Regions from separate parts of the Homo sapiens genome. Here region 1 is linked to region 2. The links come from fine-mapping of genetic effects on gene expression. A gene starts in region 2. The other region holds a variant in brackets. All regions are shown on one strand. Distances are between the middles of the regions. Region 1 holds the start of SUSD1 (sushi domain containing 1). Region 2 holds the start of LINC02977 (long intergenic non-protein coding RNA 2977).

The links.
Region 1: its variant is fine-mapped to the expression of LINC02977 in whole blood (INTERVAL, PIP above 0.99).

What each region holds. Positions count from the first base shown.
Region 1 is chr9:112,171,047-112,187,829 of GRCh38, reverse strand. It overlaps SUSD1 (sushi domain containing 1), which reads left to right and starts at 12,533. Exons shown (of 17, transcript NM_022486.5): 1 at 12,533-12,697. The coding sequence starts at 12,595. It also overlaps the pseudogene RPL29P20. RefSeq lists an enhancer at 6,632-6,781 and a silencer at 12,415-13,074. The variant A/G (reference allele first, on the strand shown) is at 9,855.
Region 2 is chr9:112,035,290-112,049,745 of GRCh38, reverse strand. LINC02977 (long intergenic non-protein coding RNA 2977) reads left to right here and starts at 9,322. Exons shown (of 3, transcript NR_186812.1): 1 at 9,322-11,567. It overlaps SUSD1 (sushi domain containing 1), which reads left to right. Exons shown (of 17, transcript NM_022486.5): 16 at 7,786-7,879; 17 at 8,254-8,963. The coding sequence ends at 8,254. RefSeq lists enhancers at 7,115-7,184, 7,275-7,324, 7,436-8,074, 7,480-8,679, 8,075-8,714 and 1 more.

The DNA of each region.
Region 1 (16,783 bases), 140 kb before region 2:
ACTGGATTCTTGAGGTATTTTTTGAATCACTGGTTAATGCCACCTTAAGTCAGACTTGTAACTGAAACTTTTGGGTTATGGGTGCCCATAAATTTCAGCTCTTCTTTCAACATTTTGCATCATATTTTATTTCACTTGAACCCAAACTCTCCCAAGTATAGAGAGCAGAGCTTTGAAGGCGGGGCATCCAGGAAAGAGGAATTTTGATGGCAGCTGACCTGTTTGGACGGGTGCGGGTGACTTGATTTAAATGATGTGTGACAACCTGTGTTTTCTGTGAGACTCTAAGGCTTGTGGCTTGTCAGTCCAGTATTGTAGCCAATATTAGCAAACCGTATTTAAGAATTAGCTACCACAATAAGAAACAATAATTTGATTTTAAAATTACCCATGAGTGCTGAGGGTTTATTCCACAAACCTGCTAGAGAAAATCAAAGCATAAGAAATCTTTTGGACTGGCTAATATAGGCTTCCTTTTCCATTACCCACCTTGGCACAGATTCAAAGTTTCTCACTCATATCTATTTTTATGTATTTTTATTTTTATTTTGAAATGGAGCTTTGCTCTTGTTGCCCAGGCTGGAGTGCAGTGGCGCGATCTCGGCTCACTGCAACCTCCACCTCCTGGGTTCAAACAATTCTTCTGCCTCAGCCTCCTAAGTAGCTGGGACTACAGGTGCACACCACCATGCCTCGCTAATTTTTTGTATTTTTAGTAGATACAGGGTTTCACCATGTTGGCCAAGCTGTTCTCGAACTCCTGACCTCAGGTGATCCACCCTCCTTGGCTTCCCAAAGTGTTGGGATTACAGGAGTCAGCCACCGCGCCCAGCCTCCATGTTTAAACAACCATGTGAGCAAGTCGGTACAATGTGAAGCATCATTGGAGCCCTGGAGACAGTCAGTGTGGGAGACAGTCACCTGAGGATATATGATCCAGGAATCAAGCCTTTGAATGAACAGGAAATAAGACATGTAGAGGGATGACTAATTTGAAGATTTTCTACCCTAGCTTGTTCCAAAGATGCACAGGTGAGCTGAATATTAATACCCACTGGCAACCCAGAGCTGACAGTGATCAATTCCAATTTTTCCTTCCTTCCCCAAATATGTAGAACACTTACTAGGTACCAGGAATTTTGCCCAGATGCAATGATAGCTGGTGAATGTGGTACACTCCAGGTCCTTGCAAAACTTATAAGTTAATGGGAAAGACTGACAAGACAGACAAGTAAGTGACAGTTTAATACACGTAGTAAGTGCTAAATGTGACATATAGGGGACTTTGGAAGTAGAAATGTATATGGAGACATGAGCAGAGACCTGATTATAAAGGGTCTTGTGTGCCATGCTGGAGATCTTTTTTTTTTTTTTTTTTTTTTTTTTTTGAGATGGAGTCCCACTCTGTGGCCCAGGCTGGAGTGTAGTGGCACAATCCCAGCTCACTGCAACCTCCGCCTCCCAGGTTCAAGTGATTATCATGGCTCAGCCTACATTTTATATATATAATGTAAAAATGGAAAATGCTAAAAATGTAACCAAGATACTATTGAAGAAAAATAAAACCAGAAGATTTTCACTACCAGATATGAATTACAATAAAGCAACAGTACTTAAGACAGTGGTATTAAAGCAAGGATAGACAAATTGGTCAACGGAATTGAATAGAGTTTAGCAGCAGACTCCACACATACCCAATCCCCTGATTCATAATGAAGGCTCCTCTGCAATTCTTGGGGGGCAGGGAGAGGGGTATTTTCAATAAATGATGCTGTAACAATTGGATATCCACATGGGGAAAAATGAACTTCACACTATACATAAAAATTAATTCCAGATGAATTTTAGAGCTAAGTGTGAAAAGTAAAATAAGAAGTTCTACAAGTTTACTCTAGAAGAAAACAGAATAACTTCATGATCGCCAAATAGGCAAAAATTTCTTAAACAGAACACAAAAGCACTAACCATAGAAGAAAACATTGATAAATTACCTTCTTTAAAGTTAAGTTTATTCATCAGATGACATCATTAAGAGAGTGAAAAGGCAAGTCATACGCTTGGAGAAGATATTTGGAATACATATGTCTGACAAGTGACTTAAATCCAGAATATAAGCAAACTCCAATAGATCAATGAGAAAAAGATAACCCAATTTTACAAAATGGACAAAATATGTGATAGCATGTCTTAAAAGAGGATTTCAAAATGGTCAATAAACAAATGTGTTTAATGGCTGGGCACGGTGGCTCATGCCTGTAATCCCAGCACTTTGGGAGGCCAAGGCAGGCGGATCACCTGAGGTCGGGAGTTCGAGACCAACCTGACCAACATGGAGAAACCCCATCTCTACTAAAAATACAAAATTAGCCAGGCATGGTGGCACATGCCTGTAATCCCATCTACTTGGGAGGCTGAGGCAGGAGAATCGCTTGAACCCAGGAGCTGGAGTTGCAGTGAGCCGAGATCACGCCATTGCGCTCCAGCCTGGGCAATAACAGCGAAACTCCATCTAAAAAAAAAAGAAAAAAAGAAAATGTGTTTAATATTTTTGGTCAACAATGAAATGAAAATAAAACCACAATAAGAGGCCCCTATACACACATCAAAGTTGCTAAAATTAAAATGACTGACAAAACCAAATGTTGGCAAGGACATGGAGCTGCTGGAACTCTCTGCATCAGTCATGGAAGTGTGAACAGCAGCTGCTTTGGAAATTTGTTTGGCAATACGCCTAAAGCTGACCATTTATAAATCCTGTGATCCTGGATATTTACCCAGCAGAATAAACACTGTACATACCCCCCAAAACATGTATTAATACAAGAAGTTTCATAGCAGTTTTATTTGGAGCTAAAAATGGACAATTGTCCAAATGTCCATCCACAATGGAATGGGTAAGTAAATTGTTGCATATACATGTTTGCATTGGACTATTACACAGAAATGAAGAAAACAAACTTCTACTGATAACGACATGGATGTAACTCTTACAGATACAATGATGAGTATAAAAAGTCACAAGCAAAAAAATAAATAGTGATTTACTTTGCATAAAATTCAAAAGCAGGCAAAACTAACCTATGGTGATTATACAGGTTGGAACATTGATTACTTATGGAGGACTGACTGATAAAATATATGAGGGAGCTTCCAAGGAGCTTGTAATGCTCTGTTTCTTGGCTTGGGTGGTGGATATTTCGTGTGTGTTTAAGTACAAATTTATAAGCTATATACTTAATATTTGTATATTTCACTGCATGAAAGTTACATCTCAATTTTTTTTTTTAATGGAGGCCGGGGGTGGGAGCAGAATTACTTGAAAGCAGTACTGGAAATCCAGGCATGGTATTATGAGAGCAGCAAAACAGGAGATTTGCTGAAAACATAAAGCAGATGTGATCAGACTGATAAAAACATAACAGAGCTGAGGCACCCACAATCTCATGAAAGCAGAAAGAGAGCATCTCCAAAATAGTACATTTTCCCATTAGAACTCCAGAATTATCTCAGGTTCAGAGATAGCAGAGATGGGAAAAGGAACCGGTAGGATAGTGAACTGGTAATTTATTCATGAGCTACAAACGTCTTCACCTATTTTCTGTTTTAGAAGTGGCTAGTTCTGAATTTTTTCCCCAAGGGATAACTTTATTTATTTATTTATATTTTATTTATTTTGAGATGGAGTTTTGCTCTTATTGCCCAGGCTGGAGTGTAGTGGCACGATCTCTGCTCACTGCAACCTCCACCTCCTGGATCCAAGTGATTCAGTGATTCTCTTGCCTCAGCCTCTTGAGTAGCTGGGATTACAGGTGCCTGCCACCACGCCTGGCTAATTTTTTGTATTTTTAGTAGAGATGGGGTTTTGCCATGTTGGCCAGGCTGGTCTTGAACTCCTGACCTCAAGTGATCTGCCCACCTTGGCCTCCCAAAATGCTGGGATTACCATGACCAGCCCAAGTGATAACTGTAAATGAAGCTTATTGCTTACCAAATAAGATGAGAATAGTGATACAAAAGAGGCTCCCAGAGAAGGCACTGGGGCCAGAGAAAGTATGGCAACCAAGAAGGAGGTCTCAAATGCACTCTCTTTATCTCCCCACTCCTACCTCCTGCTTTGCACAACCACTGGAGCTAGAACCACTGTAAACAAATCTCCATTTACTCCTAAGAAAGCAGAGATTCTCACCTGGAGAAATATAGCCAAATTATTGATTCCATTTTTTTTTTAACTCACCTGTATTAGTCCATTTTCTTTTCTTTTTTTTTTTTGAGATGGATTCTTGCTCTGTTGCCCAGGTTGGAGTACAGTGGCTCAATCTTGGCTCACTGCAACCTCCACTTCTGAGGTTTAAGCAATTCTCCTGCCTCAGCCTCCTGAGTAGCTGGGATTACAGGTGGGCGCCACCATGCCCGGCTAATTTTTGTATTTTTAGTAGAGACTGGGTTTCACCACATTGGCCATGCTGGTCTTGAACTCCTGAGCTGGTGATCCGCCTGCCTCAGCCTCCCAAAGTGCTGGCATTACAGGCATGAGCCACCACGCCTGGCCCCATTTTCATACTGCCATAAAGAAATACCTAGACTGGGTAATTTATATAGGAAAGAGGTTTAATTGACTCACAGTTTTACATGTCTGGGGAAACCTCAGGAAACCTACAATCATGGCGGAAGGGGAAGCAGGCACATCTTACATGGTGGCAGGCAAGAGAAGAGAAAGTGAAGAGGGAAGAGACCCTCATAAAACCATCAGATCTCAGGAGAACTCACTCATTATCATGAGAATAACATAGGGGAAACTGCTCCCATAATCCAATCACTTCCCTTCCTGGACATGGACACGTGGGGATTACAATTGCAGATGAGATTTGGATGGGGACACAGAGCTAAACCATATCACCATCTGATTCATTCTCATAAACTGTTAATTCATAACAGAGGAGACCCTCATGTAGAAATAAGGACAGTCAAAAATCATGAAACACTTGAGGAAAACCAGCAGAAGAAGAGTCATCAAACTCAACAAGTAAATGAACAACTTCCTGATAAAACAGAAGTCATTACAACTACAGAAAAAAAAAAGCCATTCTATACAAAGAAGCAGAGTTCTTAGAAATTAAAAGCATGATTGCTGATATAAAAATATTTCAGCAGATGAAATGAAGAGCAGAACGGCATGGATAAGGATCAAATTCATGAACACAAAGTTCACTAAATTGAGTTATGGCAATCTCCCACATTCAGTAAATGAAGGCAAAGAAAGTAAAGAGTCAAAGAAAAATACTAACAGCCATGGAGGCTAGAGGCAAGTGTTAAAAAATTCCCAGCCAGGCATGGTGGCTCACATGTGTAATCCCAGCATTTGGAAGGCCAAGGAGAGAGGATAGCTTGAAGTTAGGAGGTTGAAGGCAGCCTGGGCAACAAAGTGAGACTCTATTAAAAAAAAATTCCCATGCATTCCAGAAGGGATAAATAGAAATAATTGAGGGAATGAAAGAATCAAATAATTAATAGAAAAAATGTCTTTCCTGTAGAAAGCCTTAATTCTACAAATTGAAAGGGTCCATTGAGTGCTAGGCAAGAATAATGAAACATTATATCCTCATGAAATTTCTGAATTCCCAGGATAAAGAGAAAATCCCCCAAAGCTTGGTAGATATGATAGGAGAATGACATGTCACCTATAAGGGGTTGATAACCACAGTAGCATGGGACCCTCCATCTGCAGCACTCCATCTGAATCTGGAATTCTAGACCACATTAACCTATCACTTAATTATTTTGAATCCAGAATTCTATATTCTGTTAATGTATAATTAAATTATGGGGTTCGGTGCGGTGGCTCATGCCTGTAATCCCAGCACTTTGGGAGGCCGAGGCAGGCAGATCACTTGAGGCCAGGAGTTTGAGACCAGCCTGGGCAACATAGCGAAATCCTGGCTCTATTAAAAATACAAAAATCAGCTGGATGTGATGGCGCATGCCTGTAATCCCAGCTACTTGGGAGGCTGAGGCACAAGAATCGCTTGAACCCAGGAGACGGGGGTTGCAGTGAGCCAAGATTGGGCCACTGCACTCCAGCTTGAGCGACAGAACAAGACCCTGTCTCCAAAAAAAAAAAAAAAAAATTATGAGGGCAAAATCAATATGTATTTGGACTTGCAAAGATTCGAAGTTTACCACCCAGGAATACTTTCTGAAACAGATACTCAAAGACGTCCCCAAAGAAGGTGAAGGAGGAGGAGAAGTGGGAAAAGAGGAAGACATAGGACATGAAAAACAGTGGCGAGCAAAGAAACCAATAGAGCTTGTAGCTAAGTCCATTGCAAAATAATTGAGTAAAGTATTTTTGTTTTGAAGATTGCACTATTTGCCCAGGTCGATGATACGGGTCTTCACTGTGAGCTGGTCTCTCTATCAGTGAAGGTCTGGAACCATCCGCCTTCACAGCTGTTGTGGCTTCCTCAGCGACTGTGCTGCTCATTGCTGATTTGGTCCCCACTGCCTGGCCTGCTTCTCCTTAGGGCTGTGGGTGGCTGATCCTGGGTCCGGAAATGGGCTGTCAGCAGGCTTCCTTTCAGGGTTTGTGGAATAAAAACACCAACAGCTGAGGCTTTTGCAAGTGAGGAAGGTGATGCTGTGTGTGTGTGTGTGTGTGTGTGTGTGTGTGTGTGTGACAGAGACAGAGACTGGGTGACACAGCCTGTCTCACTTGGTGTTGTCTCCACCACCTGAGGTCGGGGGAGGATAGGTGAATACTAAGCCTGCTGCTCCTTGAACTTGTCTGTTGCAGTGTCTGAAGTTTGCTCCCAAATCCAAGTCCAAATCTAAATCTTGCTGCTGCCCCAGCTTCTGCTGGGGGGATCACAGGGTCTCTTGAGTCCATTACAGTGAGGAGAGAGAGCACTATTGTAAAAATAGGGAGTCCAGGACTTGTCCCCTAAGCTGAGCTGTCCCTTTCCACCCATGCTTGTTTTGCTTTTCTGAGAATACTAGCGTTTTGGGTAAATTACACACTGGTTGTAGCACAGCCACGTGCAGCAGACAATAGTGCACTTGTTGCCCAAGGTCTACACACTAACTCCAGGTAGGGTGTTTGATGTATGTGTGTGTCTAAAGGGAGGGAGAGGTATGCTGGAGAAGGCAGAGTAATCCTACTGTTTCTCCAATAGCAGCAAAGTATCTGAGAGTCATTAAGCTTCAAAAAATGAGAAGTTGGCCTTTGTTTGAGTTAGAGACTTCATCAGAAGGGCATTTCTCCAGAGGGACAGGTCCTTCTTATCAGCCTTTACAAATCTGCTTGAGATGATGACTCCATTCTGGGAGGGGTAATGTGGCTTCTTTGAAGGTGGCCTTGGGGTTTTCACAGATGTCGAGTCAGCCAGGGTTAGATGAGGTGGGGGTGGAGCAGACTGTTACAGAGGGACTGTTACTTTGTTTCAAACACACAAGTTTTCAGCCAATATACTTCAAAGGCTTCAAATATTTAAATTATTTCTGTTAATGCAAACTTCAGGCAGTAAGTGCAACCCCAGAGTATATTAAACTCATTACAATTAGATATTCAAGCCATTCCTAAAAAACCCACATATAAACAATTTATTTACAATTTATGGGAGGCTGGGGAGGGAGGATTGCTTTTGCCCAGAAGTTGAAAGTTGCAGTGAGCTGTGATCACGCCACTGCATTCCAGCCTGGGCGACAGAGCAAGACTCTGTCTCTAAATAAATAAATTAAATTAAAAACAAAAATAACAATTTGCAAGCCTGCCAGGAGCTGTCCCAAAGCAGTCTCTGTAATCATTTATGGTCAGGAGTGTGGTAAGCAAGAATGGATTTTTTTCCAGGAGAGTCCCAGGATATTTAGTATCCAATCTCCCTCCTCGATTCTCCTTCTGGCCTTGTAGCCAGATGGGAACCCACTGGACAAACCCCAAACCTCTTCACACTGGAATCCGACACTGAGAAGAGCAGCTTGGGGGAAAATCTCCCTAGAGATACTGAACCAGTGTTCAGAATGAAATTTTTTGCCTGCCCTCTGCCTTCCCATACCCATGGCTCTCCAGAGTCCTCTCAGAGCTCTCCCGAAATCCCATTCACTTATGTCTCAGGAATATTGGGAAAAATGGGGCTTTCCAAGATATCTTTCTTGTAAACCTGATCCCATATAGATTTGCCAGAACCAAAACTAATTTGGAAAGTCCTTAATATTTGCCTATTTGATAAAATAAAAATAAAAATGGGCATAAACGTTTTTTGTCATTGAATTTTTAAAAACGATTTTAAACTTTTTTTTTTTTTTTTTTTTGAGATGGAGTCTTGCTCTGTCACCCAGGCTGGAGTGCAGTGGCGCGATCTCGGCTCACTGCAACCTCTGCCTCCCGGGTTCTCGCCATTCTCCTGCCTCAGCCCCAGAGTAGCTGGGACTACAGGCGCCTGCCACCACGCCTAGCTACTTTTTTATATTTTTAGTAGAGACGGGGTTTCACCGTGTTAGCCAGGATGGTCTCGATCTCCTGACGCCGTGATCCACCTGCCTCGGCCTCCCAAAGTGCTGGGATTACAGGTGTGAGCCACTGCGTCCAGCCAATTTTAAACATTTTTAAGGCTGGGTGTGGTGGCTTATGCCTATAATCCCAGGACTTTGGGAGGCCGAGGTGGGTGGATCATTTGAGGTCAGGAGTTTGAGAACAGCCTGACCAACATGGTGAATCCCCGTCTCTACTAAAAGTACAAAATTAGCTAGGCGTGGTGGCATGTGCCTGGAATCCCAGCTACTTGGGAGGCTGAGGCAGGAGAATCGCTTGAACTCGGGAGGCAGAGGTTGCAGTGAGCCGAGATAATGCCATTGGACTCCAGCTTGGGCAACAAGAGTGAGACTCTGTCTCAAAAACAAACAAACAAACAAACATTTTTAAGTGTACAGTTCAGTGTTAGGTCCATTCACATTGTTGTGCAATCACCACCACTATCCATCCACAGAACTTTTTTCATCTTGCAAAACTGAAAGTCGATACCCACTAAACACTAAGTCTCAGCCAGGCATAGTGGCTCACAACTGCAATCCCAGAACTTTGGGAGGCTGAAGCGGGAGGATCCCTTGAGGCCAATAGTTCAAGACTAGCCTGGGCAACACAGCAAGACCCTGTCTCTACATTTTTTTTAAAAAATTAGCTGGACATGGTGGCATGTGCTTGTAGTCCCAGCTACTTGGGAGGTTGAGGTGGAGGGATCGCTTGAGCTTGGGAGGTCAAGGCTGCAGTGAGCCATGATTGCACCACTGAACTCCACCCTGGGTGACACAGTGAGATCCTCCTGTCTCAAAGAAAGAAGAAGAAGAATGAGGAGGAAATGGAGGAGAGGGAGAAGGAGAAGAAAGCTTCTTTCAAGTTCTTTTTTAGAAAATGCTGGTATATTAACCATGCTCTCTTGAAAGAACATTTTTCTTAAGTCAAATACTTTGTCAGCAATAATCCCACTGTTCCTCCAAACTTAACACTGGTTCAAGATTCTGTTTTAATTCTTGTGACAAATACTGTTGGATGAGGAGATAATTTTTCATTATGTGATCCAATGAACTCACCATTGAGTAAGAAGTATTGTTTTAACCAAAAATATGTATTTGAAATTTAAAAATGAGCCAATGAAAAGAATTGATGAAAGTCAAGCAATCTAATGTGGAATATAGAGTAAGATGGATTGTCCTGAAATATAATTTTCAAAAAGTTGAAAACATGACTTATGCAACTATAAGATGAAAACATATCTAAGATTCTATTCAATTGATTAATGGAGGACTCAGTAAGTTGTTGATCTCAAAGGAGAACTAGCAAGATGTTAAGGTTCAAAGGAAAATCC[A/G]ACATCAGGAATGATCACATGAATTTGCTAATAGGTGCCAAACTGGTTAACTAGTTAGTATCATATAGGACAAAATGAAATTAGTGGGTTTAACTTATTTATTTTCTGGCAGAAAGGACTGATCACTTATATTTCTCTTGGAAAACATTCATTTTCACTGCTATGGACATAAATCTTTTACATTATCATCAGTTTTCGGCAAGTTAACTTCTAGCCCTCTAGTGCTGCAAAATAGCCTAGTCAATAGGAAGTCCAGCGACGGTGCACCCAGCACCCCACTGAAAGGATACCCAGTAATCTCTTTTGCCCATTTCCAAGTTTTGGACAAATTTTCCTGACATTATCAATAAAAAATGTATATACATATATACTTAAGTTTATTTATTTTGCAAGGGGCCACAGTGGGGATGAAGTGGTATAGGCTGGTTAAAAATCTTAAGTGAATGGTATATTTGTTGAAACAATGACATGATTTCCAAGTTTGAAGTTTATGGAGAGCTGAACTTAAAAAATTTGTCTAAATAATAGAGACACACCGTCCATCTATTGCTCCCCAAACAGGTGCCTGTCTTTGTTGATCAAAAATAATTTTCAAGAAAGCCTGCTAAGAAAAGAGCTTGTGAGGCCAGATGCAGTGGCTCACTCCTGTAATCCCAGCACTTTGGGAGACCAAGGTGGGAGGATTGCTTGAGCCAAGGAGTTGGAGACCAGCCTGGGCAACATAGCCAGATCTTGTCTCTACAAAAAAAATTTTTTAAATGAGCCAGGCATGATGCTGCGCCCCTGTAGTCCCAGCTACTGGGAGGTTGAGGCTAGTGGACTACCTGAGCCCAAGAGGTTGAGGCTGTGGTGAGCTGTGCACTCCAGCTTGGGCAACAGAACAAGACCTTGTCTCCCCAAGAGGAAAAAAGAGCCTAGGAAGATGAGCTTTTTCTTTGTTTGTTTTTGTTTGTTTGTTTTTTTAAGAGAGGGGGTCTCACTGTATTGCCCACATGGGCCTTGAATTCCTGGACTCAAGCAATTCTCCTGCCCTTCAGCCTCTTTAGTAGCTGGGACTACAGGCATGCCACACTTCACCCAGCTTGAAGTTGATTTTTAACTACTTGTTAAGACTCCACAACTTTAGCCCTTATATGGGTGTGTTTGAAAGTGGTGAGATTTACGGCAGGCTCATGGCAGAGAGTAAACAAGTGAGGATATGGGGTGAAGTAGTGGGGTGCCTGCTCTCGGCTGCGCTCCCACAGACATCACAAGCTCAAAGCCTTCAAACCGGATCTTATTTATTTCCTTCTCCCCGACTAGTCATAAAACCTAGTGGATTCCACTCTTACACACTGCCCTCTTCACACTCATTTGTCAATGCCCAGCTGCAGGACACATCTATCTCTATCTCTATCTGTCTGTCTGTCTGTCTGTCTGTCTATCTATCTATCTATCTATCTATCTATCTATCTATCTATCTATCTATCTATCTGTCTATGGAGTCTCACTCTGTCGCCCAGTCCGGAGTGCAGTGGTGCGAGCTCGGCTCACTTCAACCTCCGCCTCCTGGGTTCAAGCAATTCTCTCGCCTCAGCTTTCCGAGTAGCTGGGATTACAGGTGCCTGCCACCGTGCCCACCTAATTTTTTTTTTTTCAGTAGAGACGGGGTTTCACCAAGTTGGCCAGGCTGGTATCGAGCTCCTGACCTCAAGTGATCCACCCGCCTCGACCTCCCAAAGTGTTGGGATTACAGGCGTGAGCCACCGCACCGGGCCAGGACATGTCTTCTATTGCCTGATTCCTGCAGCAACTCCGGGCTGGACTCTTTGCCTTCCACATCCCAACCCAACCCCAATCCCAATTCCACAGAACAGACAGAGATGTGTCAGTGATGAAGTCATTCACTGCTTGAAACTGTGACAGCTTCCCGGCGACCTCCATCACTTGGGTTAGGAGGGCTAACTTCCCTCTGCAGCTCAACGCCCCTCTCCAACCCTCTGCTCTCACTCTAGGTCCCCATTCCCCATTTCTACAACAAACTCCCGCTTAGATTCCTCCCCAACGTCCTTCTCATCCTTGGGTCTTGGTTTACTCCTTCCCTTGGGATGAGTACGGCTGTGATGGAGGTAGGGGCTGGCATCAGCGCGTCCCAAGCCGGGTGTCCTCAGAGCAGCGGGGACTGATGCCAGCCCCTCCCTCCATCACAGCCCTACTCTCTCTCACTCCCGGTGACCAGGTGTCACCTGGTCAAGTGTGTCGCCCCTGGGTGGCCTGGGTCTGCGTCTTCCGACCTCTCATCTGGGCCTTGCGCTGTGGTCACCTCATCCAGCTCCCTTTCACGTCCTGGAAGATTTCCGCCCCTTGCTCCCCTCACCCCTCTCCCCGGGGGTGCCTCCCTGAGCCCTCGAGTGGCTTGAATCCTCCGCAACATTTCCTCCCCAGCACTCTCCGGGGCTCTGCGTCCAGCTGTGTCATTATCCGATGAGTGTCTGTCCCCCTTTGCGAATGTGAGCGGCGAGAGGGCAGCAAGTGCGGAGCCAGAGACGGACGCGGAACGGGCGTGTCCTAAGCCCAGGCCCCGACAAGAGGAAGGACCCGCGCTCTGCGGCCTCCCGGGGACCCCGCAGCGCCCCCCGCTTCCCTCGGCGGCGCCGGAAGCCGCCGGCTGGTCCCCTCCCCGCGGCGCCTGTAGCCTTATCTCTGCACCCTGAGGGCCCCGGGAGGAGGCGCGGGCGCGCCGGGAGGGACCGGCGGCGGCATGGGCCGGGGGCCCTGGGATGCGGGCCCGTCTCGCCGCCTGCTGCCGCTGTTGCTGCTGCTCGGCCTGGCCCGCGGCGCCGCGGGAGCGCCGGGCCCCGACGGTGAGTGCGGGCTGGGACGGGCACGGGCGGCCGGCGGGGCCCCCGGCTGGGCCTCGAGGACTCTGGGCGCACGGACGCTTCCCCGCCCCTGGGCCGGGCCGGCGCGGTGCCGAGGCGTGGGGCGCAGGTGGGGCCCGCGCCGGCCGTTGGAGATCGGCAAGGAGGAGCTCAGAGAAGCGGGGGGCTCCCCGCCGGGCTTCCCTGCCCCCGCCCGACCCCGCGACGCCGGGGGACGCCGGTTTTAAGGCGGCCTGGCCGGGCCCCCAGGGACCTCCACTGCCCAGGAGGCGGGGTGGGGGCTGGGCGCGAGCGCGGACCCGGGCAGGGCGGCGCCCGGGGAAGGGCGGGGAGGCCAGGGCGTTCTGCGGCGCTGTCACGCTTCCGGCTCTGCGGTGGCTTTTGCATGACACATTTTTGACCCGAAGCAATTTTCTTACCACTTTTAATTTTTTCACGTTGTTAGAGAGCCGGATGCTAAATATGGTGAGAAAGACGCGTAAGGAAGAGTACAGGAGTGAAGCCATTAATTCACTCATTCATTCAACAGATGGCCCTTGAACAGCTTCCCTGTGCGCGATGAGGGCGGGCAGTGCGGGCCCTCGTGGAGCTCATTGTCTGGAGGATTTAGACCAGCAAATGTTCTATTTCCAAGCAATCGAGGGAGTTGTTTTTCCTCCTCTGCAAAATGCAGTGTTGAGCTGAGTAGGAATTACACAGAGGATTCAGACACGCAGGGGAGGTGACATTCATCCACATAACTGTAATACAAGGCAGAATGGCATGGGTGCCATGAGAAGGTGTGGGTGGTGAGGGCAGGGAAAGGGGAATCGGTGGTGACCCTTGAGCTGGGCCATCAATGATTGGTCATATTTGGATATGGGAAAATGTGAAAAAGGTATCCCAGCTCATAGCAGAAGGCACTGTCACCTCTCCACAAATGAGTGTAGAATGAATGAATTCCTTCAGAATTCAGGCCCGGGGGAGAAGGGAAGGAAGCACACGGAGGCACCAGAGGCAGAGGGCAGAGTGCCTTGATTGGCAGACCTAGGCCTTTGGACTTAGCTGTGCCTGGAAGCCACTGGAAGCCGTCTCAGGGAGTGACAAGAAAAGTGGGTCTAGCCAGTTCTAGGCGCTTCGGGAGCCACAGGTTACAGTGCAGACATGGCCAAATCCAAGCACCACACCACACACAACCAGTCCCGAAAATGGCACAGAAACGGCATCATGAAACCCGGATCACAAAGATACGAATCTTTTAAAGGGGTGGACCCCAAGTTCCTGACAAACATGCGGTTTGCCAAGAAGCACAATAAGAGGGGCCTAAAGAAGATGCAGGGCGACAGTGCCAAGGCCATGAGTGCACGTGCTGAGGCCTTGCCCTCATAAACCCCAAGGAGGTTAAGCCCAAGATTCCAAAGGGTGTCAGCTCTTGCCTACGTTGCCCACCTCAAGCTTGGGAAACGTGCTCGTGCCCGCATTGCCAAGGGGCTCAGGCTGTGCCAGCCAAAGACCAAGGTCAAGGATCAAACCAAGGCTCAGGCTGCAGCTCCAGCTTCAGTTCCAGCTCAGACTCCCGAAGGAGCTCAGGCCCCTACAAAGCCTTCAGAGTAGAGATCTGTGTCTGCCAACGTGAGGACAGAAGGATTGTCCCCCTTGGACTGCCATCTGCATGGGGCTGATGTCCTCCTTTGCTATTTGTATAAGTAAACTTGAGGCGGGGGAAAGAGGGTCTAAGGAACCCCCATCTTCCTTACTAAAACCAAACGCTGATCCTGAAGTGGAAGGAAATTTCCATGTGATGACATACAAGGAGACTTGTGGTTGAGAATCCTGCCTGCCGCCCCCACCCCCATTCTCTTTGGCTTGGGACTTTTACCATGCCTGATGGGTATTTCAATGGCTTGATCTTCTGGAGTGGCCATTTTTGTAATATTAGGTGCCCTGGTTAAGATTCCTTCCTTGGCTCTATCTCCGAGAACAGTGCGCATAGGACTTGCAGATGCTTGGCGTCTATTTCAGGATCTTCCTGTGATATCTCTAAGGTAGGAAACTGTCCAGTATGATCCCATTGAATTGTTAGACTAAGATGGCTGAACACAGCTAGTAGCTACGTAAGGTCATCTGTAACTAAAGGTTTTGGGGGTGAATTTGGGGAAACAGAAGTCAAGGCTTCCTGGTTGAGCCCCCTCTCCTTATCTAGACATTCTCCCTTCATGTTCAACCTTGGAGAACCTGGTTTTATGAAGGGCAGGTTTCCTGACAGTCGACAATGTAGGGAAAGACTGGAGGCTTGGACAAGCCCATTGAGGAAGTTGTTGCAATAGCTGGCCTGGAAGTTCTGAGGACTGGGCCCACAGTAATGACAGCAGAAACGGACTGAATGTAGACAGTAAGGTGGAAATGGACTGGAAGGAAGGATTTAATAACAGATATGAAGGTGCAAGGGAACAGAAGGGGAAAGATGACACTAAGGCTTGGGGGCTGGGTGACTTGGTATATGTTTCTACGGAAGGAGAAAGATTTGGAAAGAAAGATGATTAGTTGTTTTGGACATCCTGAATTTGAGGTGCTGTTATGGATTTGGAGAGATGAAATCAATAGACTTGATGGTTGCTTGAAACCTTGAAGTTGACAAGATTGGGAGGATGAAAGACAGATCCTTGGAGAGGATTCTTGGAGTTTAGATGGTAGATGCAAGTCGAGAAGGAAGAAGCAGCATCTGGGTAGGATGGAGAAAGACTAGGCTCATTTAGTCAAGGAAACTAGGAGATGGGAAGCCGAGAGGCAGAGATTGAGAAAAAGCCTTTGAATTGGATGGATCTGGTCAGTGGAGACCCAGAGCTAGTAGAGGAGAGAGGGTGAGAGCTAGATGTGAGGGCTCTAGGTTGAGGGCAGAGACCTTGTTTACGGAGTAGATACTCTTTTTTTTTTTTTTTGAGACAGTCTCACTCTGTCGCCCAGGCTGGATGGAGTGCGGTGACATGATCTCGCTTGCTGCAACCTCTGCCTCCTGGGTTCAAGAAATCCTCCTACCTCAGCTTTCCGAGTAGCTGGGATTACAGATATGCACCACCACACCTAGCAAATTTTTGTATTTTTAGTAGAGATGGGGTTTCACCATGTTGGCCAGGCTGGTCTCGAACTCCTGACCTCAAGTGATCTGCCCGCCTCAGCCTCCCAAATTGCTGGGATTACAGGCATAAGCCACTGCTCCTGGCCTCGGAGTAGATACTCTTTAAAGAAATTAGAAGGAAAACGAAGGTAGCATTCAGCTGGGCTGGTCAAGTCAGTCCAAGATGTTTAGAGAATGCAAAACAGACTCAAACATATTTTAGACTGAGGGGTATTATTTAGTAGAGAGGGGAAAAATGAAAAAGCAAAAATAAATGAGATAGTTAATGGACAGAGCAGGTCAAAAATTAAACTTGGGCTATAAGTGGGGGAGGTTAGTTTCTTAAAGTGGGGGGCGAGGAAGAAGATTAGAGGACTGTGTTTCCCTTCTCCCATGGCGGGCTACTTAATGAGTGCTATTCATATTTCAAAGCAAGCCTGGGTGTCCTCACTCCTCCTAGGAAGTCCGTTGCCACTATCCGCTTCTCTTTACAGCACCAGTAATACCATATTCCGTGCCTTGGTTGTACACTTATACCATATTGCAGTGTGATTGTTTACTAAACTAAGAGCTCCTTGTGGGTAGGGACAGTGGCTTGTATTAGGAATCTGGTAGGCAAATAAATGAATACCATCCAAACAAGAATAAGCAAAGGCTATTTATTCAGAACTTGCTGTGACAAGGGAGTCAGCCATCATCACTTCCATTTGGCAGAGACTCAAAGATAGGCTGGGGGTGGAAAAGTTTTACAGTAGAAAAAGGAAGGGGGTTGGGGGTGGTGGTGGTTCAGGTACGCCCAGCTGGAGAAGTTTTCTAGCAGCATGCATCCCATGTGATTGGTGAGAGGGCCATATCTGGCTTTTCTGGTTAGTCCCAAGTTGGAATTGGGGGCAAAAATTAGCGTAGCTGGCCGTTACTGATTAAAGCCTGACCATTTGGGGCTGATTGCTACAGAGTTCCTGGAATGATTGCTG
Region 2 (14,456 bases):
ATTTACCTGTGTTGTGCACCCATCTTGGGCAGTCTACTTTTTCAAAAAAGTTTGGAGACTGCCATTTCAGAAAGTAATTTGCAGAGAACCGAGATCTAAATTAGTCCTGAAATCGTGCCAGTTCACTCGTGCCAAGGCTCAGCCCCATTCTGGCCTTTGCCCAGTGACAAATTATGCTATTTACCTTTTGCATATTGCCCCTAGAAGAGCTTTGTAAAGATGATCAGGAAACCAGCAGTCGGTTTGATGGAAGATGCAGAGGCCTGGGCTTACTTGCCTGAGTCTTCTGCTACTAATCAGCCAAGTGTCTTTGAAATAGTATTTAACTTGGCCAGTTCTCAGTCGCCCTCTCTCTGGGATCTCTGAGATGCTTTCCAGCCACAGAGTATTATGAGTCTGTGATTTCTTGAGTCACAAAGCAAGGTCATTTGATATATGTGAGATGATAATAAGCTGTAATCGGGGAACATTCTCCAGTCGTAAGCATGAAACCTCTGAGTTATTCGGGACTACTCCTTTTTCTCTTTCAGCCCACATTTAGCACCTTGGGCACGCCTCTCTGATTTTCATTTCTGTGTTCACTCCCTGAGCATAGGCCTTCCTACCTGTAGCAGGGATGACGGGCAAATCCTCCTTCCTCATCTCCCATCACAAGAGTTCAGAATTTCCCTCGTCATTCCAGCCTACACACCACCACCTGACTTGTTTCTAAACTCAGAACTGATTTTGTTTCCTCTGCTTCTGTGGTCCTCCATTATTTTTCAGTTTGGCTTCCAAGTCCTCTATTTGACACAAACATACCCTTCTAATTACATCTTTTATTCTTCTCCATTCAAACCAATGTTCCAGCTGTTTTCTGGCTATGGCCCATGCTTTCTCCTCTTAATGTCCTTGCTCATATAATTACTTGACGACTTCCATCTGGATTTCCTGATCACCCACCTGTGAATCTCTGCTTATCCCACCTGTTTTTCAAGATTAAAATCAAATGCCCTTTCTTCCCTGAAGCTTTTTAAATTTTCTCAACAGGGCAGGATCTGCCCTTCTTTGGCTATTCTGCTATATTTTAGAGCAATGGGTGTGCACTTGTTTTGTCTGTCTTCTACTACTAGATTTTACACCCTTGAAGGGCATTTGAAGAGGAGGAACAGAGCCTGGCATGCATTAGGTGTTCAATCAGAATGCACTGAATTGGGCTGAATGATTACTGAGGAAGCAGCAGTTAGTTTTATGGGAAATGAAGCATAGGAGGTGCAATACTTATCAAATAAGCCAGAGAAGACTTACATCAGGATATAAACCTAGTGTGTATGTATACATATGTATTTACTGTATATGTACATATATGTGTATATATGTACATATATACATGCACACAATCATTTTAAACCTTTATAGTTGTGATGGGAAGAATTCTAATATGGTTCCCAAATTCCTTGTCTTTGGTATACATCTACCTTCTCTCAGTTATTCATTCAAAGACTGTTCTAGGTATTGCTGTGAAGGGATTTTGGAGATGTACTTAAGCTCCCGAATAGGGAGATTATCCAGATAGGCTTGACCTAATCACAGGAGCCCTTTAAATCTGGATCTAGAGGTCAGAGATAGGGGAAGTTGGAGCTTCAAAGAATGAGATGGATTTGACATAGGGAAATTCTCCTGCAGCTTGAAGATGGAGGGGTCCACATGGCAAGGAGTGCAGCTTAACAGAAGGAGCTGAGCAAGGCCTGGCTGCAGCCAGTAAGAAAATGGGGACCCTAGTCCTATAACTGCAAGTGTCTTAGTCTGTTTTGTGTTGCTATAACAGAATACTGGAGGCTGGGTAACTTATTAAGAAAAGAGGTTTATTTAGCTCATGAGTCTGTAGGCTGGGAAGTTCAAGAGCATAGTACTGCATCTGGCCTGCTTCTGGTGAGGGCTACATGCTCACCAGAACAATGGTAGAGAAGTGGAAAAGCCAGCAGGTATATACAAAGAGATCATGTGATGACACAGGAAGCAAGAAAGAGTCTAGGAAGTTGACTCATTTTTATAACAACTAGCTCCCTGGTAATACAGCCCCTCCAGAGCAAGAACTCACTCACCTCTGAGAGAGGGCATTAATCTGTTCATGAGGGCTCCAACCCCATGACCCAAATAGTTCCCACTAGGTCCCAACTCCTGACACCACCACATTGAGGATTAAATTTCAAGTGAGTTTCAGAGGATATAAACTCAAACCATAGCAGCAAGGAACTGAATGTAGCCAATAACCTGAATGAGCTTGGAAGCAGCTTCTTCTCCAGAGCCTCCAGAAAGAAGTTCAGTCCACCTGAGACCTTGATTCTAGCCTCGTAAGGCCCTAATACGGTTTTCTTCTATGTACCCACCCAAATCTCATGTCGAATTGTAATCCCCATGTATTGAAGGAGGGGCCTGGTGGGAGATGACTGAATCATGGGAATGAATTACCCCCTTGCTGTTCTCGTGATAGAGTTCTCATGAGATTTGGTTGTTTGAACGTGTGTAGCACTTCCTCCTTTACTCTCTCTCTCTCCTGCTCTGGCCATGTGAAGACTGTGCCTGCTTCCCCTTCACCTTCTGCCTTGATGGTACATTTCTTGGGGCCTCCCTAGCCTTGCCTCCTGTACACCCTGTGGAACTGTGAGTCAATTAAACCTCTTTTCTTTTAAATTACCCAGTCTCAGGTAGTTCTTTATAGCAGTGTGAGAAGGGACTAATACAGGCCCTGAGCAGAGAACCAGCCACAATGTGCCTGAACTTACCACCCACAGAATTCTGAGCTCATAAATGGGTTAAAGCTACCTAAGTTTGTGGTGATTTGTTAAACTGCAATAAAAATGGAATATAACAGTGTTGCTAATGTATCAAGCATTAATCTTTAAATTAATCTTTAAACTTATCTTTAAATTAGTTTTCCACTTTGATTTCCTTTGCCATCTTTGGCTCTGAATGGAATTCAAGTGAGAAGACCCTAGAATAGCAAAGAGAAATTTAACACAGTAAATAGAAGTCACTGTGCTAATTATTATTTTTATTATTATTTACCATTTGGAGAACAGAATTGGTGCTTTCAGGAAGTGACCATGCCCGTGTATATTCATGAAAAAATGTCCACACCCATGGAGCGTCCTCAAGCTGTCACAAAGTCTGAGAGTAGAAATAGGGCCTTTCTAACTTCCTCTTCAGCATGTGATATTTCTATCAGGGAAGGGGTTAAAGATAAGTCCAGCAAGGCCCCATCACTCCTCCTGAGCACTAGCTCTCTTGAGGGAGCCACCATAAAGAGAATGGTGAAGTTTAGTCTTAATGGACTTACTTTCTCCAAGATTGAGTAACTGATGTGGGATATAACACATGAGTGATTCACTTGGGTTTGTAAAAAAATATTCTACAAGTGATTCAGAAGAAAAATAAACATGGTTCTCTGGCATGAGACCATGGAAAGGTAGGGTAACCAAAGGATGGTGAGGCTATAAAAAATACAATTCAAATTTGCCAGTTGTAAATTTTCTTATTAAGGAATTAATGAGGAAAGTCTCTAAAGAAGCTTGTGTGGCAACACTTGTGAGCACTCTTGATTAGATTGACTCAGATTTTTAGAGTATATATGCAAAGTAGACAAAAAGACATATAACCAGGAACTGATCTACCAGCAAGAATCATTCCTGGAGCCAAACCCAAATTGTGCTATGCAGAATAAATAAAGATCATTTTCCAATACTATGTCTAGAGTAAGGAATAGTTGTGCCCAGGTAGATCCTGCTGGTGGATGGTCAAGTGAAAGTCAGCTTCCTTAACTCCTACTTAGCTTTTGTCCTCTTCGTTTGTGAGGGGATAGTTAGAAGAAAGAAAAGAGCTTGCTACCCTACATAGGTTCAAGTCTTCCAACATGGATGTAGCGTATTCTGGCAGGTTCATACAATTTTCACATGAGATGGATAAACCATTGCAAATGATCTTCAATAAACCTTGAAGAAAATGGAGAGATGTAAGAGGACTAGAGATGAGCAAAGAACAAGGAACTTTGTACAAAGGAAGAACCACCAGAAGTGTAGATGATGGTAACTTGAAGTCAAGGCAAAGCAAGGTCTTCAAGTGATGGCTTGTGTATCCCTGGTAGAAAAAACAGCAGTTCCCGGGAGTCAGGAGCTTTAAGAGCAGATTAGGTCAGATTGCTTTCCATTTCTTCTTGCACAGAGTCAGTAATTGGTCAGGGAAATATGGCACGCATAATAACAATAATGTCCTTGTGGACAATGTGGGGACATGAGAGCTGTATGTGGGCTTAGAAACAAGCTGAATGGCTATGCACAGTTGATATCAACTCATTAACAATTATTGATGAGTTGAAATCAAACCCAAGAATATGCATGATATGGATTTCTGTCCACAGTCATCTTCAGTTCAACATATTCATCAATCAGTGATTAAAATATACAGAGGGTTAAAGTGTAGAGGAAAAAATACACAGAAAAAAACTTGATGTCAGAAGTTGGAAGGAATACTGGGTAGATCGGATGAAATGCCAGTGCAGTAAAGTACCAGCTCCCCCGTTCATCTCCAGAATTGTATTTTCTCTTAAAAACAAAACAAAACAAAACAAATCTAGTTAATTAGTCCACCAAGATGGCATTTAAAAAAATGTTTCTGAGTCATGCACAAAGATGGCATCTTAATGCCTTAATTTGCATTTTTATTACTTGTAAGAGAGCATTTGCTCAAAGTTTTATTGATCATCTGTAATCATGTTTTTCATGTGATTTACCTTTTCGTAGAATTTTCTCATTTCGCTATTGAGGTATGTCTTTATTAATCTGTAACACTCTCTGTATGTTAACTTCTTGCCCATTATTCTAGATATTTTATCCAGCTTGCCATTTGCCTTTTAATCTTGCTTATGGTAGTTTTTGGTATAAGAAGTGCATGCTTTTTAAAGTGGTTAAATCTCTCATTCTCTTAAGGTTTCTGTGTTAACGAATATGCTTAGAAATTTCTTACCCCCTTTAATATTAGGTAAATATTCACTAACATTTCCTAATCCTTTTAGGTTTCAATTTAAGTCTGTAATCCATCTGGATTTTATTTTGATATATGGTGTAAGCTCTAGTGATCAAAATTATTTGATTCTAAATGGTTAGCCAATTTTCTCAGCACTGGTTATGAAAAATTTATCATTTCCCCAATGATCTGAAACAGTATCAAAACAACAAAAACAATAATAATTAACAATAGCTAACATTTGCTTATTGCTTATTCTGTGCCAGGCACTGTTTCAACCTGTACTAACTCACTGACTTCTCCCACTACCTAGAGGTGGGTAGTATTGCTATCATTCCCATGTTATTACAGCATCCCTCAGTGTGGGGACTGAGACACAGAATGGATGAATAACTTGCACAAAGTCACACAGGCAGTGGTGGTGTTCAGATAAAGACTTGGACATCTGACTCCAGTATTCAAACTTTGAAAGTATTTGATATGCTTGGATTTGTTTCTAGGCTATTTTGTTCCAATGTATTCATTCCTATTCTAATACTGCACTGTTTTACTGTCTTGCAATTCAAGTCACTCTCCTAATATTTTTTCTTTACTAATTCTTCACTTAATCACTGTTTCTCCTTCCATTTTATAATCTAGTTTCTTGGCTGGGCATGGTGGCTCATGCCTATAATTCTAGCACTTTGGGAGGCCAAGATGGGCAGATCGCCTGAGGTCAAGAGTTCGAGACCAGCCTGGCCAACATGGTGAAGCCCTGTCTCTACTAAAATACAAAAACTAGCCGGGCGTGGTGGAGTACACCTGTAGTCCCAGCTACTAGGGAGACTGGGGCAGGAGAATCGCTTGAATCCGGGAGGTGGAGGTTGCAGTGAGCCGAGATCATGCCACTGCACTCCAGCCTGGGTGACAGAGCAAGACTCTGTCTCAAAAAATAATAATAAATAAAAATAAAATAAAACAAAATAAGTAATCTAGCTTCTTAAAGTGTCAAGGCCATTTTTCTTCTATAGACTAAAAGCAACCAAATAATATAAGCCATGTTTTCTAGAAAGGCTCTTGGCAGCATTTTTTGAGAATTAGTAACCGCCCAATGAGTTTTCCTTGCCTGCTGCCTAGACAGAGCTGATTTATCAAGACAGAGGAATTGCAATAAAGAGCTTAATTCACACAGAGCCAACTGTATGGGAGACTGGAGTTTTATTATTACTCAAATCAGTCTCCCTGAAAATTCAGGGATGGGGTTTTTAAGGATTACTTAGTGGGTAGGGGGTAGGGGATGGGGGGGTCAGTGAGTCAGAAGTGCTGATTGGTTGGGTTGGAGATGAAATCACAGAGTCGAAGCTGTCCTCTTGCACTGAGTCAATTTCTGGTTGGGGGCCACAAGATCAGATGAACCAGTTTATGGATCTGGGTGATGCCAGCCGATCCATGGAGTGCAGGGTCTGGAAAATATCTCAAGCACTGATCTTAGGTTTTACAATAGTGATGTTAGCCCTAGGAGCAATTTGAGCAGTTCAGAATCTTGCAGCTTCCAGCTGTAGGACCCCTAAACCATAATTTCTAATCTCATGGCTAATTTGTTAGTCTTGCAAAGGCAGTCTAGTCCCCAGACAGGATGGGGATTTGTTTGGGGAAAGGGCTATTATCGTCTTTGTTTCAAAGTTAAACTATAAACTGAGTTCCTCCCAAAGTTAGTTCAGCCTACGCCCAGGAATGAACAGGGGCAACTTGGAGGTTAGAAGCAAGATGGAGTCAGTCAGGTCAGATCTTTTTCACGGTTATAATTTTCTCGGTTATAATTTTTAAAAAGGCGGTTTCAAGTTCTGCAGGGCTGTTTAACACAAGGTGTATTCTATGGCTGGTTTTACTAGTGCCAGGTACTGTACTGAGTTTCCAATAGAAATGCACTCCTCTTAACCTGGCTGTAAAGACCTGAGTTGTACTTAGCCACTCCCACCTTGGTTCCTTAAGGGAATAATAATAGTACCCAATGTGAAGGCTGGTTAGAAGCCTAAATGAGTGAATATTTGTGAGGTGCTTGGAACAGTGTCTGGCACATAGTAAGTGCTAAGTAAGTGTTTGCAAATTAAAATGAAATTTTTGCTCTAATCTAGAACATGATTCTCTAAGTCAGTCACTTGGCCCACATGTGCAACTCAACTGTGAGTGTTTTTTAGTTTATAATCGGGGATCTCCCTGGAGTTGGCATGTGATGGTCCCCAAATAGAAAGTATGTCTTTCAAAGTACTTTTATCCTCTCAGTAAACCTGCTGACCTGAGCAGGGAAGTATGACCCTTGTTGAGGTATGGAGAAAATGACAGGTGACTCAACAAAGGATATTCCTTTGCTCTATCTGACCATCAGGGCTATCAGTTTTGGAAACCAAATTCAAATAATATCATAATGACTTGTCCCTCCATGCAAAAGAAAACGGCCCATAAAAATCTATCAAATGTAATTGATTGTGAGAGGACCAACAAAAAATGTAACACGTTGCATAGTATTTGTGTGCTCAACAAGATTAGCTGTTTTCTCCCTTGTAACTTTAACATGGTCTGGCTTTACACTTCCTTTTCAGAAATACCTTGTAACTGTAATTTCCTGAGGCTGCATATCCACAGGGCCAACTCAGGGGACACACAGGCATGTTGGGCATTCTTGGGATTCTTTGTTAAATGGGGCCAAGCTCTGGGTTAAAATGGATTGAGCACAGTGGGGTGTGTGCCTCCTGGGAGGTGGTGATGCCGTGCACTCTGGGCTAAGCCTGTGGTTTTGTCCCACAGATTCGTCACTCATGCTGCTGCAGATGGCGGGTGTTGGACTGGGTTCCCTGGCTGTTGTGATCATTCTCACATTCCTCTCCTTCTCAGCGGTGTGGTATGTGAGGGTGTCATTTTTGAGAAATGACTGGAATGGAGGGGAGGATGGGTCAGAGTCACGAAGAACAGCTGGGGATGAGGGGAGTCAAAGGGAGTGTGGGTGGAGGTTGTCCTTGGCTCAGCAGAGCACACTCAGCGGTGAAAGGCATGACTAACCCTGTACCTCCAGGTAGCATGGGGGATGCCTTCCCAGGAAAAGAGCAGGACCAGTGATGGCTGCCCTGGCCACACACAGAGGGGTGGCTGAGCTTCCATGCTGCTCCCCCTCGCCTCCTCCCATGGGTGTGCGTGTGAGCTGTGCATAGAGATGCACAGTGGGAAAACCAAAGTGTGTTCATATTTGTCTCTTTTCTTTTCCTCCTCCATGTCTAGATGGCAGATGGACACTGAGTGGGGAGGATGCACTGCTGCTGGGCAGGTGTTCTGGCAGCTTCTCAGGTGCCCGCACAGAGGCTCCGTGTGACTTCCGTCCAGGGAGCATGTGGGCCTGCAACTTTCTCCATTCCCAGCTGGGCCCCATTCCTGGATTTAAGATGGTGGCTATCCCTGAGGAGTCACCATAAGGAGAAAACTCAGGAATTCTGAGTCTTCCCTGCTACAGGACCAGTTCTGTGCAATGAACTTGAGACTCCTGATGTACACTGTGATATTGACCGAAGGCTACATACAGATCTGTGAATCTTGGCTGGGACTTCCTCTGAGTGATGCCTGAGGGTCAGCTCCTCTAGACATTGACTGCAAGAGAATCTCTGCAACCTCCTATATAAAAGCATTTCTGTTAATTCATTCAGAATCCATTCTTTACAATATGCAGTGAGATGGGCTTAAGTTTGGGCTAGAGTTTGACTTTATGAAGGAGGTCATTGAAAAAGAGAACAGTGACGTAGGCAAATGTTTCAAGCACTTTAGAAACAGTACTTTTCCTATAATTAGTTGATATACTAATGAGAAAATATACTAGCCTGGCCATGCCAATAAGTTTCCTGCTGTGTCTGTTAGGCAGCATTGCTTTGATGCAATTTCTATTGTCCTATATATTCAAAAGTAATGTCTACATTCCAGTAAAAATATCCCGTAATTAAGATTGTTCTTCCCTTGGTTAATTTTTCTGTTACTAAGCGTCTTCTAAAAATGCTCTTTGCCCCCTGTTAGAAACTGAGATTTGGTGGTAGTGTAGTAGCAATGCTTAAAACAGTATTGAGCCCATGGCTAGACTAGAGTCCATGTGTGTTTCAGGGGAGGGGTTGCCATAGAGGGTGACACTTCTTTTATCTAAACTTCAGTAACTATGAATGTTACTCCATTATGAACTATGAAACATTAGATATAAGCGGTGCTGGACCTACTGTGAATATGCTAAGTTGACAGCTGGAGTCTATTTGATTTTACTTTTAAATCATGAATTGGCATTCTTTCCTCTTTTTTTTTTTTTTTTTTTTGAGATGGACTCCCACTCTGTTGCCCAGGCTGGAGGGAAGTGGCGTGATCTCAGCTCACTGCAACCTCTGCCTCCCGGGTTCAAGTGATTCTCCTGCCTCAGCCTCCCATGTAGCTGGGACCACAGGGCCCCCCCACCACGCCCAGGTAATTTTTGTATGTTTAGTAGAGATGGAGTTTCACCATGTTGGCCAGGGTGGTTTCAAACTCCTGATCTCAGTTGATTCGCCCACCTTTGCCTCCCAAAGTGCTGAGATTACAGGTGTGAGCCACACGCCCGGCACTAACTAACAATTTAACTCCAAGACTCAGTAAGAAACGAATGGGGAAGGAAAGACAGAGGCTTCTGGCATCTCTCCTTCTCCCTTGCCTGCTAGGCCTAGAGAAGAAAAACCATGGAGGAGGGGAGGTGATACTGCACAGCCTCAAGATGCAGCATAGACGAATGCAGTCCTTAGCAAAAGGAAAGGGCTTCCCAATGCAGTGGGCCGGTGTGTTCACCGGCTTGCTGGGTGTCAGTGAGGGAAGACTCTGAGTGCCTTGGGCTTATGGGCAGATGAAGAGACAAGAGGAACAAGTACAAACTGCCCATGTAGCTGCTCCACCCCAGGGAGTCCAGAGTGTATCCGCTCTATTGGGAAGAATTAGAGAGAGGCGAGTAATATCCTGACATTCAGGTGTTCAATGCCAGCTGTCAGCCTCTGGCCCCTGCCAGTGTTAGGAATGATTCCCCTGTCCTCTGGGGTACTGCCCTCCGACGACAACTTAGGATCAGCATTTAAAACCCTTTCTGCTCTCGTCTTAGGTAAATTATAGACCAGAACGGGTCTATAATGGGGACAGGTCCCCATCCTAACCCCCAGAGACCGTTTCTCTCAATAGATGAATACAAATAGCTCTCAATTTTTAATTTTTATGTGCAATAATGCAAACATACTTTTTTTTTTTTTTGAGACGGAGTCTCACTCTTTCTCCCAGGCGGGAGTGTAGTGGCGCTATCTCGACTCACTGCAAGCTCCGCCTCCCGGGTTCACGCCATTCTCCTGCCTCAGCCTCTGGAGTAGCTGGGACTACAGGTATCCGCCACCGTGCCCAGCTAATTTTTTGTATTTTTAGTAGAGATGGGGTTTCACCGTGTTAGCCAGGATGGTCTCGATCTCATGACCTCGTGATCCACCCGCCTTGGCCTCCCAAAGTGCTGGTATTACAGGCATGAACCACCACGCCTGGCCGCAAACATACATTTTTATAGCTCCTGAACTAAATTGGGTATCAATACAAATTACTGTGGTTAGTGTAGGGCTCGGCCTCTGATGAGTGAGGATCTTTCCTCAAAGCCCACCTTTGTCCAAAGAAAGAATCTGAGCCTCCCCTTGACTTATTTTATTTTTTGCCAGTTTTGTAAATGCTGTATGCTTCCATACTACCCCCTTCCCTAATTTCCACCTCTAGAATTAACTGCCAGAGATACAGTTGTCCACATGGAATGTAGTATAATTGTGATAGAAAGGAAGAAATCCCCCTTGCTTAGTATTAAAAGTTTCTGGTTAAAATAACTGACTAAATATTAAGTAAAACATCACCTTCTGGGTACAATGCAGAAAAGTAAAAGCAGTTCATATAAGATTACTAAACTTTGGGAGGTCTTCAAGACCAGCCCTGGCAACATAGCGAGACCCCATGTCTGCAAAAAAAGTTTTAAAAATTAGCCGGGCATGGTGGCGTGCACTTGTAGTCCCAGCTACTCAGGAGGCTGAGGCAGGAGGATCGCTTGAGCCCAGGAGTCTGAGGTTGCAGTGAGCCGTGGTGACACCACTGCACTCCCGCCTGGGTGACAGAGTGAGATCCAAAAAAATTTACTGAAATAACAAAAACGTGGACTTTGGGATTTCCTCTAACTGCTGCAAATTATAACACAGAATTGCTCAGTGTTAATACTTGAATTGTGGGGCCAAGTCTTCTGGCTGCCCTAGTTCTCTTTTCTGGCATTTGAAAGCCCTTGAGCTAGCTATGGAGCTAATCTTTGGACAGGCTTTTTGGTTCCCAGGAATGTCATGCCTTTGAATTTCCAATCTATATATATACAGTGTGTGTGTATGTATACCTGTCTTTTCACTGTAAGGCACCTCCACCCATCCCTTATAGAAGGAGCCACAAACAATCAAGCAAATGGATGGAGGTTAATTAAGGGGAAGAGGAAATAGTCTGTTCTCTGACTCGAGACCTGAAATTGCAGTGGGGCACGTAAGGTAAGACCAGAGCAGAAGTGATTATCTTGAAATTCCACTTTAGCTTGGAATAAAATTAATATTTAAATTGATTTTAAAGGAAATAAAAAAGAACATTCAGTGTTCCCTTTTCATTGCTAATCTCACATTTTCTGATTTTCTAAACCTTTTGTTTTCCCATTCTTTTCTTCTAAGAGGAACTCAATGGTCTCATAGAAGTCAATCAAATAGCGTTGTAAGAACCTTTTACCTACCACATCCTTTGTTGGTTAGACTGAACCAACAAAGCAGTGCCTGCTTCTGGGGAGGAAGGATGTGGCCTTTTCTGTGCCCCAGTTTGTGGGAGGGTGAGTCCATGAAGCAAGTCAATTTAAAAGGCAGTGTGTGCTCTTGTTTCAGAGAGAGTGAATCCTTTGGGTGGTGGTGGTGGAGTATGTGTGTGTGTGTGGTGGGTGGGGGGTGGGGCATGCACATCTAGATCCATACTTTTTGGGCTCAACTCAGGGTTACCAAAATAGAGTCAAACTCAACTCAGGATTACCTAAATGGAGTCAAATTTTGTGTGTGGTTTTGTAACATGATTCTTTCAGTCATCATTTCCAGGCCACATTTTTCATGTCACTCATGACTGCATTATAAGTTTGTACCATAATTCATTTAACCAATACTCTGTTGTGCATTTAGAATATTTTCAGATGTTTATTGTCCTTATAAAAGTCAGTATGAAGGTATGCAATTATCACTTAGGCCACATTCCTGGAAGTAAAATTGTTGGAATGGAAACTATGTACATTTTACAGTGCAGATTGCTGGAAGAGTTTTATGCAAAAACTTATACAAAAATTTACACTCTTACCAGCAGAAAGCCTCAGCGCCACTGAGTGCTGTTGTATTGTTAATCTTGATTAATCTGGTATGTGAAGAAGGATGTTTCAATGTTTTGTCTGTGTCTCTCTGATTATTTTGCTTGTTGATTGGCCAGTTGTTAATTCTGTCTTTGTGAGTTGTCTTTTTCTCAGTACTTGGCCTATTTGTCTTTGATTTGAAAAAGCTCTTTATGTTGTAGTCATTTTAATTCCTGTCATATGTTTTGTAAACAATTTTTCGAGTTCATAATTTTTCAATCTTGTTTGTATTATATTTTGCCACACAAAAATTTTAAATTTGTATAGTCAAATTTATCAGTCTTTTTCCTTATGTTGGACCTTCTAATCTCAAGGTACTAAATATAATCTAGCATTTTTTTAAACATTAAAAATTTTTAATCCATCTATAATTTATTTTAGGATAGGGAGTGAGGCAGGGGAAGGTATCTTTTTAAATAAAAATCGTTGCTAAATGGTTGGCTAGTTGTCCTATTAATAGTCATTGAGACCAGGAGCGGTGGTTCACCCCTGTAATCCCAGCACTGTGGGAGGCTGAGGTGGGAGGATCACTTGAGGTCAGGAGTTCGAGACTAGCCTGGGCAACATGGCGACACACAATCTTTACAAAAAATAAGAATTAACAGAGGCCAGGCTCAGTGGCTCACGCCTGTAACCTTTGGGAGGCCAAGGTGGGTGGATCACTTGAGGCCATGTGTTCAAGACCAGCCTGGCCAACATGGTGAAACCCTGTCTTTACTAAAAATACAAAAATTAGCCAGGCGTGGTGGTGTGCACATGTAGTCCTAGCTACTTGGGAGGCTGAAGTGGGAGGACCCCTTGAACAGGGGAGGTTGAGGCTGCAGTGAGCCATGGTCATGCCCTGTACTCCAGCTGGGTGACAGAGCAAGACCCTGTTTCCAAAAAAAAAAAAAAAAATTCATTGACTGTTTTTTTCTGTTAGTGATTTGAAATCATATACTGAATCATATGCTGAAGTCTATTTCTGAACTTCTTCTTTTGTTCTACTGATCTATTTCTGTGCCAATACCACCTACTGTAACTTTAAAATAGGTTTTTGTTTATACCAAGTAAGAATAAGTTACCATTATTTTTCCATTAATTTTTTTTTTTTTTTTTGAGACAAGGTCTCACTCTGTCACTCTGTTGCCCAGGCTGGAGTGCAGTGGCATGATCTCAGCTCACTGTAACCTCTGCCTCCCTGCTTCAAGCTATTCTCCCACCTCATCCTCCCGAGTAACTGGGACTACAGATGCGTGCCACCACACCTGACTAATCTTTATATTTTTAGTAGAGAGGGGGGTTTCACCGTGTTGGCCAGGCTAGTCTCGAGCTCGTGACCTCACGTGATCCTCCCGTCTCCGCCTCCCAAAGTGCTGGAATTACTGGCATGAGCCACCGAGGCTGGCCTGAGTATTCTAGTTTATAACTTACAAGGTCATTCATATGTATATGTTGTTGTGCTTGTCTAGCTATTTTATATTTTGTTATTCTGAACTCTTGGCCTCTATCTCAGCTCCAGCCCCTGAAAGTGCAGGAGTGCTTTTGCTCTGCCAGTCGGCCTTTTTTGGGAAATCATATCAAGATGGCTTTTCCAGCACAATTACTTCCTAGAGTGTCTGCTTGATGCATGGAAACTCATAGATTTTTGGCATGCCAAACAGAGGGTTTTCCTGCCGTCACTGCTGGCTCCAGCCACAGACTTCAGTTTTCTTACCTGTTAGAGCCTTTGTCCTCTGACTGGTGGAAATGGAGCTTGCTTCTTTTTGTTTTGCCTGCCACTAGTCTGGCAGCCTCCACCTCTTGACCCTTGGGTTTCTTATCCTTGGAATCAGATACGAGGCCCTGTGTCTTCTGTTGCTGTAGAGGACACAAGTCATATTCTCTGAGTGGAGATCTCTCTGAAGCTCCTCTTTCCAGGCTTGTACTGAGGGACCTCTGGACCCTCTACCACGTGGTGTCAAAGCTGCCAAGAGCTGTCATATGCTGGGTCTGTAAATTGACTTTCTCACCTCTGACCAGATGC